2 separate regions of the Homo sapiens genome follow, and region 1 is linked to region 2. The links come from fine-mapping of genetic effects on gene expression. A gene starts in region 2. The other region holds a variant in brackets. All regions are shown on one strand. Distances are between the middles of the regions. Region 1 has its middle 33 kb from the start of LINC01203. Region 2 holds the start of LINC01203 (long intergenic non-protein coding RNA 1203).

Evidence for each region. PIP is the estimated chance that this variant, and not a neighbour inherited with it, causes the effect. A credible set is the group of variants that fine-mapping cannot tell apart.
Region 1: its variant is the best candidate, but not a certain one, in a credible set for the expression of LINC01203 in spinal cord (GTEx, PIP 0.61).

What each region holds. Positions count from the first base shown.
Region 1 is chrX:13,365,642-13,371,036 of GRCh38, forward strand. No RefSeq gene overlaps it. Among named protein-coding and RNA genes, the nearest start is that of LINC01203, 33 kb to the left of the region's middle. The variant A/G (reference allele first, on the strand shown) is at 2,813.
Region 2 is chrX:13,332,490-13,337,884 of GRCh38, forward strand. LINC01203 (long intergenic non-protein coding RNA 1203) reads left to right here and starts at 2,752. Exons shown (of 7, transcript NR_045260.1): 1 at 2,752-2,823; 2 at 2,993-3,056; 3 at 3,170-3,208; 4 at 3,890-3,971.

The sequences.
Region 1 (5,395 bases), 33 kb after region 2:
CGCACATTGGACTCACCTGAGGAACTTTAAAATATGCATGACCTGGTCCCACCCCAGAGTTCCTAATTTAATTGGTCTGAGGTATGGCCTAGGCCTCAGGATTTGAAAAAGCTCCCCAGGTAATACTGATGGCCAGCCAAGAATGAGAAGCACTGTTTTAGAGCAGGGGTCACCAGCCTGTTTTTGCAAATAAAGTTGTATTGAAACACAGCCACCATTTGGTTACATACTGCCTATGGTGGCGCTCATGCTACCACGGAAGAGTTCAGTAGTTACAACGGAGATCTTATAACCTGAAAAACAAAAAATATTTACTATCTGCTTCTTTACAGAAAATGTTTGCTGAGCCTGTTTTAAAGGGAAGCTTCAGGAGGACTTTCAGTGTCATATGAAAAATAGTTTACAAGGATTTTTGCTCAAGGTAGTGGCAGAATTCTCATAAGGGACTCTCACAGGGACAAAATATTCAAAGTACACAAACATTCAGGTACCACGAAGGTAAATGAGCATTCATAGCCTTTCTTGTTTTCCCCTCGCCTTACAAGGCACATGCTGTTTTCAAGTTTTTGTTGAACAAGACGAGGGGTAGCAATAGGGAAGTCAGGAGAAAGGAAAGGCTAGGCTGGTTTATGTTAGGAAAAGCAGGGAACTGCTCTTAGGAAGAAACAATCCTGAAAAGAAAAAGCTACAAGTCAGAGGAGAGGCAGGGAGGAGTGAGCTTCAGGGAAGAGTTTGGGAAAGTTTCTAGAGATGGGAGACTAGAGAGCTGTCACCCTGTGTTGAGTGGCACTGTAGAGGTTAATGGTTCTAGTGATTTTTAGAAATGTGGCTGTGTGATATGAATCATAATCCCCTTAGTCTAAGAGATTTCTGTAAAGTTGTATACATTTTCCATACTTTTTTAGATGTCAGATTAGTCTTTTTGCAGTGAAACTCTGTACTATGATTGGCCACAATGGAAGCTGGAAATATTGGGCTACAGGATGAATACGCCTTAAAACTACCAATTATTGACAGCATCATAATAGTTGGAATAGCACATCTAAGAGTTAGCAGCAGGAAAATAAAAAAGGAATGAGATGGGAATCTGAAAGCTTACAAATGGCAGCGTGATATTGCTGGGTCAGTTTCCCCAACTCTAAGCTCTAAGTATCTCTGATAGGAACCTGTGGAGAGGAGCGTCTGCTCTCCTCTTGGTCACTGGAGCCCAAGATCGCAATGTTCACACTTCCATTTATTGTGAGGAATAGAACACCAGCACTTAAGTGATTGTCCAAACCAACATCACCAAAGCAACAGCTTTGCATAACACCCTTGCCAATACTCAGAATCAAGGGCCTTAAAAAATGAAGGAAAGTAACTGGAATGAATGCAAATACTTGCACCTAGAGAAGCCTTTCCGGAATTATTAGCAAACACTCCACTCATTCCCTGACTTGGCAATTCTCCCAAAAAGAGAGGAGGGGTTTAGGTACCTGCATTCCTCAAGACCCTGTATGGCCTGGTGAACTTGGAGGTGATCTAGGACCAAGGTAAATCATGTGGCTGGGCAGCCTGAGAACAAAGATCAAATCAGAAGTCAGAGAGGCAGCAAGCAAATCTGGGCTGTTTTACGGTATCCCAGCATCCTGGACTGACAACATGAGCTGGTATTTATCTCTCCAATTCAGATATCAGTAGCCAGACATTGCCATTGATTCATCATCACATTCTTCTTCCCGTAGGGTTGGACTCTGAGAACATCTAACTCAAAAGAGCACTGCCGTAAAATACTGTAGGAAATGTACATGCATTGAGTGCATTTCAAAAGAACAATCCTTCAGTTTCGACTATTTTTCTATTTGTTTGTAATTGCTTATCTATGTACATGCTTATCATATTGTGTCATAAATATGGAAAGCCTTCATTGCCCAAGCGTAATTTGTCTCTGCAAGAGTCCATTTAAAATTAAACCACCTGTAACATTCCCAGCGGGTCGGCAAAGAAAAACAGTACCACATCACATAGGACCCAGCAACTAGGAAGAGAAATATCAGTTAGGACAGAATACTCAAGAGCAAAAGAGGCATATGACAACATGAATGCAACAACCATAAGCACACTTAAGGAGACTCAAGAGTACAAAGAAAAAAGTTTCTGGAGTTAGAAAGAAAAATTAAAGTGAAGAAGAGGCTAACATTTTTGGTACTTGAATTAGAGGTATGGGTGAGCAATATAAAAAAAATTAATCCACCCAAAATAGAAACCAAATGTCACAGTAAGTACTGGAAAAAAAGATTAGGATTTTATTCTAAAAAGAAAACCAATTTGTTTTAAAAAGTAGGAAAATACATTTATATTTTCTTATTTGCGAAAAATTCAGGATATAATTGCCATATCCTAACTCTTAAAATGAACAACAATGACGTAAGTGTTGATTTTTCTTTTGACACAGTTGTTCTGGCAAAACCGTATGATAGTTTTGTGCACCCTGTCTTCACAGTTGACTTTCGCGCACAGTCATAAGTAAGGTCATCTTTACAAAAACGTTTGAGGTTTCACCAGTTTCCCCACAGACCTCTCCGAAGCCTTTGATATTCAAATTGTTTTCTGACTCCCATCTTCTGACATCATCTTTGTTAAGTTTCTTTTTTTCCCAAATTAACCTTACCAGATTCTTATTTTGGCTTTGCCAATGATTTGAGCCATTCTCCAACATCATCAGCTTTGTGAACTCCTTCATGTTAGCAACATTTGTGATTTCAGTTTAACAACTGTTTTCATTGCATCATTAGATTTTACAGCAGCCACATTCAATGGCACAGTTACTTAC[A/G]AAGCTCCTTTGTTAGACTATGAACTCTTTAATGGAGAAGCTGTGACTTATTTATCTTCTACCACCAATGATTGCCATAAAGTAGATACTGATTAGTATTAGCTGAATTTAACGGCTTTTCATTTAAGGTCTTCATGTTTAAATATTGACTAGCATAGATGCTCACACAATATTGATTGAGGACAAACTTTATTAAGTGGTTAATTCCTTAGCATATTTTTAAAATGTTATGTTGACTTTTGCTTCCCTGTCTCTTCTGTGAGTATCTAGATAAGTATTTGGACCATTAGCATGCACCAATATTGTTTACTTAACAGCCTCTTTAATGGAGGAGCTGTGACTTATTCATCTTCTACCTCCAATGACTGCCGTCAAGTAGGTATCAATTAACAGTATTGCACTGAATGTCTTTTCGTTTACGATCTTCATCTTTCAATATTTCCAGGCCAACCAGAAACACATCATAAGCAGCACATGCCTCAATTAAATCATTGGCAAGATTAGAAAGACAGCCTAGAAGTAACTTTGGGCACACACAGAGTATTTCACAAATGTTATTTGAATTGAAAAATGGATCTTCAAACAAGACAGAAAAGGTTTTATTTTACCTATAATTTTGCATGGAAGTCTTGGGTGACCAGAGTAATTCTCGGTTTCTTTCCTTCCTTCCCTCTCTCCCTCCCTCCCTTCCTCCCTTCCTTCCTGCCTTCCTTCCTTCCTTCCTTCTCCCTTTCCCCCCTTCCCCCTTATTTTCTTCTTTATTTCTTTCACTCTTTCAGCATAAAGAGGTTAGGTCAGCATTAGCATCCTGAAGGACCAAGATAATTGATTGCAAGGGCCAATGTCCACGATAATAGAGAGTCAAGATGACCCCCAAAGAAAGGAAATTTGCTAATCTGGGTGTTAGTTGCTCTCCATCCAATAGAGAGTCTTTAATATGCTCATTCATCTCTCCAGTCTTCAGGAGCATTTCCAGCCATCTGGCTCGCTTGCTGACCCTTGCCCTTTCAGGTAGCAGCCATAAATGCAAAGCTCTCAAATAGGAAAGTCTGTTGGTCTCATTTAGAAGGCCTACTCTAGGCAAGGTTAGGAAGATGGGAGATAATGATCCTTTGCCATCTCCCTAGAATTTAAATACACAAATTAAAAAGCACATTAACTCTTTGTTTAAAAAGAAAAACAAAATGTCATCAAAGGCAGGCTTGATTCAAATGCAGTTTAGGCTAATGAAGGAGCTGTGTCCTTTCACTATTTGTTCTGGGATCTTTTCAATCAGTTAGCATTGGCAAAGCTTCTGAACAAAGACAGTAATTACCAGATAAAAATTGCCTTCAGTGCATTGTCTAACTGTGTTCAGTTTGGCATGAATGGATTTATGATCCTTTCATTCCAATAGGAACTACCAGTCCGCCTTTCACTTCAAATAGCCTATTCATCTCAGCATAAAAACAGCTAAAATATACTAGCAGAATATGCTGCCTCTGCAACCCAAGCTGCACACAGCAGGAGTCAGCTTCTTCCAACAGGCACAAATATAGCTGGCTTTGAAAAACTATAAAACAAAGGCTCTAGAAAACTCTTGCATAATTTTTTAAAAACAGCAATTATTTGGTTCCAATCCCTTTTACTACTCTGTATCTTTTATCCAATATTAAATTAATTCCATTGTGTATAAAATGGTCAAAACCACAAATTACAGCAGGGAATTTATGCTTAAATAATGATCTGTGGTTGCTATTCAGATACATAGATTAATACTTTCTATTCCTTAGGGGGAAATGGCACAGAGAGGTGTTTTTGTTTTGTTTTGCTTTGTTTTTAATAGATAAGGCATAAAGAATCACTTTATCAGAAATAAATTAATTGGTGGCAATTTACTTGACTCCCAACATCCATCTGCAGTGCATTATCTCTTCTACCCTCTATCCTGTGTGTGAGGTAAATGTCTATGTACACACAAACCATGTATTACAAGCATAGAGTAGTACTCATAAAGGAAGTTTCTATAGAAAATTAAGACCTTCATGCAGAGCTTTGTGCTGCAGTAATATAATACAGAGCATGCTAAAATGTTGACCTGAGTCTGTCTTCAAGTATAGTGGTTTCGAGATCAGTTCCAATCACAACTTTCTCATTGGTCAGCATCACATGATGTCTTCATGGTGGTATGAGTTTTGCAATTGATCCCGTTGGCTTTGGTTATCAACAGTGTTTCATTGGATGTATAAGAACTGCTCATGTTGGTTTGTCCCAAATGCATCCTAGAAATGATAACTATTTAACTAACACAAGTATATAACTGTAACAGAGTGGAGTCCTGAAAAAGTACTCTCCAAAATTTGACAGACTTGTTTCTATGCCTTGACGTGTTACTAAGTCTACATATGAGTAACTCTCTATCTCTGTGAACTTCAGAATGCTATTCTTAAAAACTAGAGGAGGGAGTTGGTCCAGAATATTCCTTTTGTCTCAAAGTATTTCATGATAAGATACAGCACTGCATATGCTTGTTACTATGCCCTGCTGGAAGAATCAAGCCTCTGAGAATCCCTGCAATAAATAAATTTGCTTAACTTTTTAGCT
Region 2 (5,395 bases):
CTGGAAGAAATCCCAATGAACAGGGGTCATTATCAGGCCACATTTCTGGTATCTGTGGTAAGTAATGATGTTCACTTTAACCCCATCACAGACCATTTGATCTTCATATATCTAGGTAAGTGATGTCTGTTTACGTGAACTGTTTATCATGTGCTTTTATAACAGTGATTTTTGTAAGTAATGACAGTATTTCTAGTTCTAGTGACCATGTTATATTGTTTTTAATTTAGAGAAAACTTATGGTTTACGCTGTGAGTATCAAATGATTTGCGTGTACACAGATAACAACGTGGTGTGCTTCATAGTAGTAACTGTGGTATCCTTGCAGATAGGTAGTCAAGAAAAAATGGTGTGTCCTTCAAGGTTGTAGACCTTGGGAATACTGCAAAATTCCATGTAGATTTATGTCTTCTGCAATGATGACAGCCAACAAGTTATTTGCAGGGTTCTGGTGGAAGAGTTGTGTCCACAGACACATTTGTCATAATGTGGTTTCAGGTTCCTCTCAAGGGGTCATGGGAAACCTCATCATGATCAACAATGGGACATTGCTGGTATCCAAGCCAATTATGATGTGGGCCTTAAACACCCTACAAAAATGTGATCTACAGAAATGTAGGTAACTGTAGATGGTTTTCCTAATTTTTGTGTTGCCATATTTTGTGCAGGTATTTAGTTAAGGAATTATATTTTCCCAACCAACGCAGGTAAGCATCAGTCATTATTTTAGAGTTTAGTTATAATGTGTTTAGTCTTATAGTGAGGGAGGGATATGCAGGTATCCAGGTAAGTTTTCCTACTGTTTCCCACCACGTTATTGACCATGAGACTTCAACATCATCAAGAGATGATGGTGCCACTACATTGTTGACATTGAAGTCATGGCAAATCCAAGTAGTGTTGAAGGTTCCCTGCTGATGGAAGTGCCCAGAATTATTTGTGTCTTGTCTTTTTTTATGTAAAACAAATTGTTTCCTTAAACACACTTGAGCAATGTGTTTTTTAGTTTTCTGTAATGAGCTCACAATCAAGCTTAACAATAGTCATTAATGGAACCGTGCTGTAACCTGCTAATTGAGAAAGTGTGTTTCCCACAATCAGACCATTAGATCTTTATATTTCCATGTAAGTGAGGATGGTGTCCTTAACACTTGTCTACCATGTATTCCTGCAGGTATCCTGTTAAGTTCTTTCCTAGTATACAGGTAGAAGATTATGTGATATTAACACATTAGCAACCTTCCTATTTTCAGATATGTAGGTGATTAATGATTTTTTTGAGACTCTTCTTGTAACCTTGTGTTTGTCATGCATGCAGTTAAGAAATTACTTTTTCCCTAACATTACTAGTAAGAGTGAGATTTTACTGTGTTCTTGTTTAGACATAATGTGTATTTATCAATTGTAGTGATATATGGATATGCGAGTATCCAGGTAATTTATCATATTGTCCATCACTGTAATGCTGAGATTTTTGTAGGTATCACTTCAAGAGAGGAAAGTTTCTCTTACGAGTGTTTTCCCTTGGCATTATGCAAGCATCCAGTTACCTTTGATAGGCCCTGAAATGATGAAAGAGACGAAGGGAATTTGCAGGTGTACAGGTAGAATGAGACATTTAGGAAACACATTTTCAACAGTATATTTTTTAGGTTCATTTGAAGAGGTCACAGTGAGCCTATCAGTAATAGTTAACAGGGGTCATTGCTCGTATGGATGTGCATGATAATGTGGGCCTAAAACACAGCCCAGCCCATCTGATCTTCCCTTATATAGGTAAGTGGTGGTGTCCCTAACACTTCTGTTACTATGATTTTGTTGTAGCTGTTCAAGTAAGAAATGATAGAGCTCTTACCAATTTAAAAAAACATTATTTTTCTCACTTTTTATATTTTAGAATAACTTTATGATTAACCTCTGAGTTTTGAGTGATAGTGCCTATCCTGGTTATTGGTGTTTCTTACCACAGCAGTAACCAGGGGATTTTTACAGGTGTCCTGTCAAGAAATGACCGTCTTACCTGACAGTGGTATTGATCTTGCATTATTACAAGTATCCAGGTAGAGTTTATGTGTTCTGTAATGATGGAGTGACGAAGGTTATTTTCAGATGTCTTGGTGGAAATGTTTGTGTCCTTTAACACATATTTCACAATGTGTATTTCAGGTTTCTGTAGTGAGACCCTGATAAACCTAACAATGGTTGGTATGGCAGACATTTCTGGTATGCAGGCAAGTGATGATGTGTTCTTTAACCACATCATAGACCATCAGATCTTCTTATATCTTTTTTTTTTTTTTTTTTGACAGAGTCTCGCTTTGTCACCCAGGCTGGAGTGCAGTGGGGTGATCTCGGCTCACTGCAGCCTCCACCTCCCAGGTTCAAGCGATTCTCGTGCCTCTGCATCCTGAATAGCTGGGATTACAGGTGTGCACCACCACATCCTGCTGATTTTTGTATTTTGAGAGATGGGGTTTTGGCACGTTGGCCAAGCTGGTCTCGAACTCCTGGCTTCAAGCAGTCCACCCACCTTGGCCTCCCAAAGTGCTGGAATTACAGGCGTGCACCACCACGCCCGGCCAGATCTTCATATATCTAAGTAAGTGTTATACATTTACCTAAACTTTTTTACTGTGTGATTTTTTTCCATAGGTACTCAAGTAAGAAATGATAGTCTTTACTAACTACAGCAACCATGTTATCCTGCTGTTTTATATTTTAGAGAAAATTTATGTTTAACTTTGTGATTGGCGAGCTATTTGCTATCCAAGGAATTAACCATGGAGTTGCATGTCATAGTAGCAATTGTGGGTTTGTTTGCAGGTAAGTAGTAGAGAGAAAATGGTATCTGTAACAGTGCTATAGACCTTGCAGTACTGCAAGATTCCAGGTATACTTGATGGTTCTTGGAATGATGGTAGTGAATAAGCTTAATTGTGGGGTTCAAGGAAAAAAGCTGTGTCTACACACATTTGTCATAATGTGTTTTTAGGATCCTGTCAAGAAGACATGGTAAACCTCATCATGATCAAGAATGAGACTTTGCTTGCATCCAGGTAAGTAATGACGTGGGCCTTAAGCAAGCACTCAGAAAACAATCTGATCATCAGATCTATAATTAAGTGTGGATGGTGCTTCTAACTTTTGTGTTACCATGGTTTTTTTGCAGGCATTCAGTTAAGAAATGATGTTTTCCCAACCAAGGCTAGTAAGCATTAGCCCTTATTATTTTACAGTTTAGATATAATGTGTAGTATCTAACCAAGCTGGGCATAGTTGCATGTGCCTATAGTATGAGCTACTCTGGAGGCTGAGGCGGGAGGATCACTTGAGCCCAGGAGGTTGAGGCTGAAGTGAGCTGTGATCACACCACTGCACTCCAACTTGGGTAACAGGACAAAACCCTGTCTCTTAAAAAAATAAAAGAGATATAATGTGTGTTTAACATTAGTCTCTAAGGAGGGCTATGCCGGTATCCAGGTGAGTTATCCTACTCTTCCACATTATAGTATGAACAATGAGATTTCTAAGTCAAGCGATGATGGTATCTCTAACATTAGTGTTGATCTCAAAGTTCTACTAAGATCGAGGTAGTGTTGGTGGTTCCTCTAATGAGGAAAATGACTGATACAAGTTGCAGGTGCCCCGTCCTTTTTTGCAGGTAAAACAGCGTGTTTCATTAAACACATTCATCATTGAATGTGTTTCTTCAGGTACCCATAGTCATGAAATCATAGTGAACCTAACAGTGGTCATTTATGTGTTCTTGGTAGTAACCAGGTCAGTGATAAATTGGGTCTTACCACACTACAGACCACCTGTTCTTCAGATTTTTAGGTAAGCAAGTATGGTCCCTCTAACACAGTGTTACTGTGTTTGTCTTTTTCAGGCTTCCCAAAAGTTGTTTGATAGTATACAGGCATGAGATGGTGTGACTCTAACTCATTAGATGCCTTCGTCTTTTCAGTCATGTAAGTAATGAATGGTGTTTTCAAGGCCGTTACATAAACCTTGTTTATGGCATGTATGCAGTTTAAAAATTAAATTATCCCTACTACTAACAGGAACCATGAGTTTTTAATGTATTTTTCTTTTGAGATAATGTGTATTTAACACTTGTACTGATAGACATATATGCAGGTATCTTGCTATTTTATCATATTGCTCATCACCACATTATTGGCCATGGGATTTTTGGAGGTATCTGTCAAAGAGTAGACGGTGCCTCTTCCTATAGTTTGACTTTGTAGTTCTGCCCTTATCTAGCTTTTGTGGGCCCCAAAAGATTCAAGAAACCAAGGGAATTTGTAGCTGTACAAGTAGAATTAGACTAGTACCAAACCCATTTCCCACAATGTGTTTTCCAGGGTGTGTCAAGAGATCACGGTGAGCCTATCTACGGTAATTAATATGTGATATTGCTGGTTTTGAGGTAAATGATGATGGAGAGACCTAAACCAGAGCACAGATTACCTGATCTTCATATAGATACAAGTGATGGTTGTGTCCCTAACACTTGATGTTACCATGATTTCTTTTTAAATGTTCAGATAGGAAATGATAGAGTCTTTACCAATTCTCAAAACCACGAATTTTCCCTCAGCCTCCCGAGTAGCTGGGACTACAGGCACGCGCCACCATGCCCAGCTAAATTTTTGTATTTTAGTAGAGAAGGGGTTTCACCGTGTTGACCAGGATGGTCTCAATCTCCTGAACTCGTGATCCACCCGCCTCGGCCTCCCAAAGTGCTGGGATTACAGGCGTGAGCCACCACACCCGGCCTCCTATTTTCTTTATTGAAAACCTGAGACCAATTGAAAAGCAATAAAACAAGCGTTCGAGAGCTTCTTTAAATCAATACAAGAGCTTCTTTAAGTGGAAATATATATCCAGTTGGTCAGACTCTCCATCATACACTTTGCTTTTTGTTGAAATTCAAAATAAAACTTTCTTTAAGGAAGCCTGGATCTCAGTCTTAAACCCCTAGCTATAAATGTCTCCAACAAAGGGGAAGGGAAGCAACCTAGTCTGAATTTTAATTCAGCCAAATGGGAAACCCATGACCTTCCATTCTCCTCTGATTTTACCATTCTTCTAGGATCCATTTCACAGCTATTGTTCATCTGGGTATAGAATCACTGCTTTGTATTTCAACACCATTGAAAATATGTCAGACCAAGACCCGTATAGTATAATTCTGCTGGAAAATAGAAGTTAAAGGGGTTAACCTGTAGTAGTAGATTAAGATAGTTATGGAAAAAAGGTTAAAGAAATGAGGGTTTAAAAAGCTTTCAACAAGTTGCTGTCACCTCTGGGCCATCCACATAGTAGGTACTCAATATGTGTTGAAGTAAATGAATGCTTCTTTATGGATTGGCTCATTCAACAACCATTC